Linked DNA regions of Homo sapiens: region 1 is reported to be linked to region 2. Evidence: microRNA targets listed by miRTarBase, many of them from high-throughput screens and not tested one by one. Region 2 holds a microRNA gene; the other region holds the end of a gene's coding sequence.

Evidence for each region. The annotated mature microRNA hsa-miR-4655-3p reads ACCCUCGUCAGGUCCCCGGGG and lies in region 2 at 1,902-1,922, opposite strand. An mRNA with a match to its seed (bases 2 to 7 or 8) in the 3' UTR can be bound and repressed. Matches are read on the target gene's strand: a 7mer-m8 pairs with bases 2 to 8, a 7mer-A1 pairs with bases 2 to 7 and ends in A, and an 8mer does both.
Region 1: the mRNA of DOHH is a reported target of hsa-miR-4655-3p. Seed matches in the 3' UTR shown: 7mer-A1 at 2,739-2,745, 7mer-A1 at 2,716-2,722, 7mer-A1 at 2,693-2,699, 7mer-A1 at 2,670-2,676, 7mer-A1 at 2,647-2,653 and 7mer-A1 at 2,601-2,607.

Annotation. Positions count from the first base shown.
Region 1 is chr19:3,488,449-3,491,834 of GRCh38, forward strand. DOHH (deoxyhypusine hydroxylase) reads right to left here. Exons shown (of 5, transcript NM_001145165.2): 5 at 2,376-3,363. The coding sequence ends at 3,044. It overlaps LOC105372246 (a long non-coding RNA gene), which reads left to right. Exons shown (of 5, transcript XR_936264.2): 3 at 1,644-1,962; 4 at 2,074-2,168; 5 at 2,827-2,913. Among named protein-coding and RNA genes, the nearest start is that of SMIM44, 6.7 kb to the left of the region's middle.
Region 2 is chr7:1,842,288-1,845,673 of GRCh38, forward strand. It overlaps MIR4655 (microRNA 4655), which reads right to left and starts at 1,966; the gene lies at 1,893-1,966. All of the region lies in intron 18 of MAD1L1 (mitotic arrest deficient 1 like 1), which reads right to left. All of the region lies in intron 1 of LOC100127955 (a long non-coding RNA gene), which reads left to right.

The DNA.
Region 1 (3,386 bases), not on the chromosome of region 2:
ACAAGAAAGTGACAGAACAGATCGCAAGAGAGAGAGCCCCACGGAACCATAGTAGAATGGATGTTGGCTGCTCAGGAGGCTGAGGTGGGAGGATCACTTGAGCCTGGGAGACAGAAGTTGCAGCGAGCTTAGATCGAGCCACTGCTCTCCAGCCTGGGCAATAGAGCAACACTCTGTCTCTAAAACATAAACAAGATGGCCAGGCACGTGGCTCATATCTATAATCCCAGCACTTTGGGAGGCTGAGGAGGGCAGATCATTTGAGGCCAGGAGTTCAAGACCAGCCAGGCCAACATGGTGAAACCCTGTCTCTACTAAAAATACAAAAATCAGCCAGGCATAGAGGCATGTGCCTGTAGTCCCAGCTACTCAGCAGGCTGAGGCACAAGAATTGCTTAAACCTGGGAGGCAGAGGTTGCAATGAGCTGAGATTGCACCACCGCACTCCAGCCTGGGCAACAGAGTGAGACCCTGTCTCAACACAGAACAAAACATACTGAGACCCCGTCTCTACAAAAAAATACAAATATTACTCAGGCACAGTGGGGCAAACCTGAGGTCCCAACTGCTTGGGAGGCCAAGATAGGAGGATCGCTTGAGCCCAGGAGGTTGAGGCTGCAGTAAGCTGCAGTGATCAGCCACTGCACTACAGCCTGGGAGACAGAGGGAGACCCTCTCCATTTAAAAAAAAAAAAAGTGAGCCAAGCGCAGTGGCTCACGTCTGTAATCTCAGCACTTTGGGAGGCCAAGGCGGGCTGATCACAAGGTCAAGAGTTCAAGACCAGCCTGGCCAACATGGTGAAACCCCATCTCTACTAAGAATACAAAAATTAGCTGGGCGTGCATGGTGGCACGTGCCTGTAATCCCAGCTACTTGGGAGGCTGAGGCAAGAGAATCACTTGAACCCGGGAGGCAGAGGTTGCAGTGAGCTGAGATCACGCCAATGCACTCCAGCCTGGGTGACAGAGCAAGACTCCATCTCGGGGGGAGGCAAAAAAAAGGCTGGGTGTGGTGGCTCATGCCTGTAATCTCAGCACTTTGGGAAGCCGAGGCGGGTGGATCACCTGAGGTCAGGAATTTGAGACCAGCCTGACCAACATGGTGAAAGCCTGTCTCTACTAAAAAATACAAACAGGCCAGGTACGGTGGCTCACACCTGTAAGCCCAGCACTTTGGGAGGCCGAGGCAGGAGATCGAGACCATCCACCATCCTGGCTAACACAGTGAAACCCCGTTTCTACTAAAAATACAAAAAATTAGCCGGGCGTGGCAGCGTGCGCCTGTAGTCCCAGCTACTCGGGAGGCTGAGGCAGGAGAATGGCGTGAACCCGGGAGGCGGAGCTTGCAGTGAGTGGAGATCGTGCCACTGCACTCCAGCCTGGGCAACAGAGCGAGACTCCATCTCGAAAAAAAAAAAAAAACAAAAAAAAAATTTAGCTGGGCATGATGGTGCATGCCTGTAATCCCAGTTACTTGTTAAGCTGAGGCAGGAGAAGTGCTTGAGCCTGGCAGGCAGAGGTTGCAGTGAGCCGAGATCACGCCATTGCACTCCAGCCTGGGTAATAAGAGTGAAATTCCATCTCAACAAAAATAATAAAATAAATTAAAATTAAAAACCTATAATCAAACATGTGACTTCCAGGCAGGTTTCTCAACCTCTGCACTCATTTGGGGCCGGATCATTCTCTGTTGTGGGGACCGAGTGCTGGAGGTTATCTTCCAGCATCCCTGGCCTCCCCCGACTACCTGACTAGATGCCAGCTGCACACCCCCACCCCCCACCCCATGACAAGCTAAACTGATGCCCCGGGGCAGGATCCAGCACTCCGGTGGAGAACATGGCTCAGTGGATAGTCGGTTCCCGTTGCGTTTTGCCTCCTGTCTTCTGGTTTTGGCCTCTCTGGCTGCAGACCAGGAGCTCTGCACCTGAGATTCTACCGCTATGCCTATTTTACAGAGAGGTAAGTGGGCTGTCCCCAGCCACACATGGAAGGGCTGCGGGAGCCGGCGGAGGAAGCCATGTCTGGGCTCTCAGCTGGACCACAGAACCCCTTCCACTGCACCCACAACAGGAGCTGGGGGAAGACGGGGGTCCGGGAAGGGCCAGGCTGGAGGGCTGTTTCCCCAGAGCCCACTTGGAGGGAGCTGGCTGGGCAGATCTGACCAGGTAACCGCACATAAAACAGGTGCAGGCCTGCCTGTCGCTGGTGGTGGCTCAGTGTCAGCAGCAGGACAGATCCTAGAGCCAATGGCTGCGGATACAACCGTCTCCCCGCCCAGACGCCACACACTCTCGGGGAACGTTCCCTGAAAGCCCCCACCCCTCCCTCCCTCCCACGCTCCCCTCACCCAACACACTCAGAGGAGTCAGTGCTTGGCAAAAATAATTTAATATTCCATCTGGGCAGCGCTCTGAGGTCTGCTTGTCCCTCCCTGGCCCCTGTGCCCTACCTGACCCACTCAGGGACCACCACCCTGTCCCTACCCAGGCCTCGGGGTGGGGGAGTCAGAGGCCCCCAGACCCTGTGTCCCATTCCTAGTGAAGCTGAAGCCACCATAACGTCAGCCTCTTCCCAGAGCCCCAGCTCTGCCCCTGGCTTCCCTCGCGATCCTCCCCTGGCTCCCCTCGCGATCCTCCCTTGGCTTCCCTCGCGATCCTCCCCTGGCTTCCCTCGCGATCCTCCCCTGGCTTCCCTCGCGATCCTCCCCTGGCTTCCCTCGCGATCCTCCCCTGGCTTCCCTCGCAATCCTCCCCTGTCCTGAGCCGGGCATCCCAGAGCCTCCCGCAGAGTCCCACCCCAAGCCTGGAAACTTCCACGCTACAGCCCTGCGCCAGGCCCCGAGGAGCAGTCAGGGGACTCAGGGAGTCACAGCACAACGGCAGCTCCTCGGTCCCAGACGGAGGAGGGGGACAGCAACCATGCGCCCAGCAAGACACAAGCGATGACACCGATTTACACACACCCGGTTTAGACGCCAAAGCTCTGCGGGGGAGGAGCGGCCCTCAAGAGTCCTCCGGGAGCTCCGGGTGAGGGTGGGGCCCTAGGAGGGGGCCCCGCGCAGCTGCTCCAGGCCGTCCGCGTACTGGAAGGCCCGCCCGGTCTCGTGCTCATACATGTCCAGAGCCACCTCGCAGCTCTCACGCACCACGCGCTCTGGGTCGTCCGCGTGAGCCTGCAGCGCGGCCAGGCAGGCGGGCCGGGCAATGGCGCCCAGGGCCTCCGCGCACTCGTGCCGCACCATGGGGTTCTCGGTGCATCGGGCCAGGGCGGCCGCCAGCTGGGGCACCGCCGCCTCGTGCTGCAGCTGTCCCAGGACGTAGCCGACCTCGTGGCGGAAGAGGGCGCTCCCACAGTGCAGACCTGCAGGGGAGAGGGACACTCGC
Region 2 (3,386 bases):
GTGCTCCCGCTCCGTGTGGCCGCAGCCCCCGTGGCCCTGTGGAAACCCAGCAGCTCCCTGCGGCTCCGGCCCTGGAGGCCTGAGGTGGCCTTGCCTCCAGGAGCCCGGCCTCAGCCGTCACAGCCGGGCTTGGCCCTGCACTTAGGATCCAAAGGGCAACTCTTGGCAGCTGGAAAGGTTCTCCCAGTCCACAGGCCGCCAGAATCCCTTCCGGCGCATGCCTGCCTGAGCTGCCACAATGCCGCGTGCTCACTGGCCCCCCAGGCCTGTCCCAGGCGAGCTGAGTAACTGCAGCCACCTGAGCCCCGGCGAGGGACAGACAGCTATGCTTCTTCAGGTCCCCGAGGGAGGCCTTCGTCCTTCGTCCATCGCTGGGCCCATCATTTACTGAGTAGCTACTGCCTGCAGCTGCAGAGGCCTCCACCTCCCACTCCTCACCTGGGCCCCTGCAAGGCAGCCGAGGCCCAGGGCACGGTCAGGCTGTGTCCTGGAGGGGAGGGTGGGCAGGGCCTCTGAGTGCTGCACAGCTGCGTCCCACATGTCAGCCCCTCGCCCAGCTGGCCCTCCCTGTGGCTCAGCACACGGGCTGCCTTGCGGCTGGTTCCCGGATGGGGAGGGTACACTGCCTGGAGCTCAGGGGCTGGCTGGGGTGAGTCCGAGGCCGGGCTCCAGCACAGCCTTCAAGTGAGGCCCACAGTGGGGCTGCTGGTACTGAAATGGCATCCTGGCTTCCCAGTAGCACATTCCTTGAGTGTGTCAGTCCCTCTGGGGACCATCTGGAGGACGGGGGCTAGAGAGCAGCCCTGGTCATTCTCCACCAAGACCACACATGAGGCCCCGATGGCACAGTGCCGGGATCCTGTGTAATTAGGGTCTGGGTGCCCTCGTTGCCCTACTCCTCTGAAAGCGAGCCAGGTTCACCTTGAACCCTGCAGAATGATGCTCTTTCTGGCGTCTTTCTCTGTCTTCCTGGGCCTTACAGGTTCTTCGGCAGTAAATCAACTAAACGGTAACACTCTTCCCTCCATCTTCCACATTCAGGCAAAGCTGGCCCCGGGGAGCTCCTGCGCAGACGTCCCTCACGGCCAGGGAGGCCGCAATGAAGGCTGAACCTGGGGAAGGGGCCCAGGTGCGGTGTAGACCTCCTCTGTCATCCAGCCCCTCCTGAGGGGGCTTGATGGGCGTCCACAAGTGGGCAGCTTTTCCGCGCTTCCCCGTGTCTGACTGTGCTGAGGGCCTCCTGAAGTGCAATTGGTTAGTCACGGTTTAGTGTTCTTTACTGCAATGCTATTTTAAGATGCAATTAAAACGTCTCATTGCCAAAGTGCGTGCTTCCTCCTGGGGGCCTCCTTCCTAACACGAAGGAGTCAGAAACCAAGGCCGGGAGGAGACCTGAGCTGAAGACTCACTTCTGGAGTGGGCACACTTTGTCCCAGCTCCGTCTTCCTGGAGCACCCAGGAGAGCCCGCTGCAAGAAGAAGCCCCACGGCAGGCCACGTGGAGGCGAATTCACCTCCTACCCAGACAGCGTGGGCAATGCTGAAACGAGCGTGAGCTCCGAATGATTTTAGTGAGGTTCAAACCTCCCCTCGGCTGTCAGCCTCTGAATCTCTTCCACTTCAGCCACGGCCACTCCATGGCTAGGGGCGGGGAGGGGACACTCAGAAGTTTGGTTTCTTCTGAGGGGCCTGAGCACACACTCAGGATGTGAGTGGGGCCGGGAAGGGCAGCAAGTGGAGCCTATGCAGGAACACTTGTGCAAGGCTGCACGGTTTCACTACCACCAGAAGGCAACTAAAAATCCCCACAACTCCAGGTGTGTCCTGGCTGGTGTCACGGAGCCTCACACACGGCTGAACCGCTTAACTCACATCCAGCCACAGAACGGCCTGCCAGGGGCTCCCCGGGGACCTGACGAGGGTCAACACTTTCCCACGACCCTCTGCCATCCCCGGTGTGCCCTTGGGGAGAAGTGTGGTGGTCCCACAGGCCCCCCTGCCAAAACCTCATGCTTGAGGAAGCACTCCCAGTGGACAGGGAGCCCCAGCTGCTGCTGCTGGACAGGTAGGGGCCCAGGGGCACAAGGGGCCACCTCCAGGCTGGGGGGAGACCTGGGGAGAGACGCCGGTTGGGTGCTCCACTGCAGACCCTGACACGCGAGGTGTGGGACATGGACGGCATTCGAGGTCCCACCCCGCTGAAGGAGCTTGACACGGAGCCCTGCAGGGGGCAGAGGCGGCCCAGGGAGAGGCGCAGGCAGGGGACGCAGCTTGGGACGGGCCTACAGCTGGCCCAGGAAGGTGCTCCCCGAGGCTGCCACGTGCCCAGCACCTCCCCTTGGTGACCATCCCCCCAAAGCTGGGGGGAGTCCAGGGCCCAGCACTCCTTTCTCCAGGCTTCCCCCAGGACATCCTGCTGTGGCTTGGCACAGGCCGGGCACTGACAGAGGGGACCCGTCTGGTTGCATCCGATCCTTCGATGCTCCTGCAGGGGTGGAGGGGCGCGTGGGTACAGTCAGCAGGGCTGTGGCCGTACCGTGCAAGCCACTCCAGCACCTGAGCGTGTCCTCCTCTGCGAGTGGGACAGGAAAGCCTGCCTCGCACAGCTGCTGCCAGGACGGAGACAGTATGCTGCTGGTCAGTGAGTGGGCACAGCCAGGGTCACTGTCCCGCCATCAGAAGGAGGACAGGGGTGCGGGGAGGAGGGGCCTGAGCCCGAGGCTCCTGGACTCACAGTGGGCACAGGGTCTGTGCAGCCAAGGCCCCACCTGGCGGGCGCGGGAGGCAGGCCCTGACTGCAGCGGGGAGAGCAGAGCGAAGGGGTCTCCTCTTCCCTCCTAGCAATGCTGTGTGGCTGATACGCTGACCAGCTACTTGACACCTGGCACAGCCTGCTGGGCTCAGGGTGGGGAGACGCATGATTCCTATCTTGTCTGTAGCTTTCCTGAGGCTGACGCAGGGCCCAGCGCTCCGGAGGGAGACTTGATCACACACAGGCAGTGCACAGAATGTCAATGTGGGAGAGGCCGGCGGCTCTGACCTTGGTGTGTTACAGCCCTTGCCACCTCCCTCCGCTGCCCTGCATGGGGACTCAAACCACAAACAGCAGCTCGGAAACAAGCAGACACGCGTCGGACTCTGGTTCACGGGGAAGAGCGCTGTTTAGGAGATGGACGTGCTCCACGCAGAGACGCGTCGGGCTCTGATTCATGGGGAAGAGCTCTGTTTAGGAGATGGACGTGCTCCACGCAGACACGCGTCCGGCTCTGGTTCACGGGGAAGAGCGCTGTTTAGGAGACGGACGTGCTCCACGCAGACATGCGTCCGGCTCTGGTTCACGGGGAAGAGCGCTGTTTAGGAGACGGACGTGCTCCACGCAGACACGCG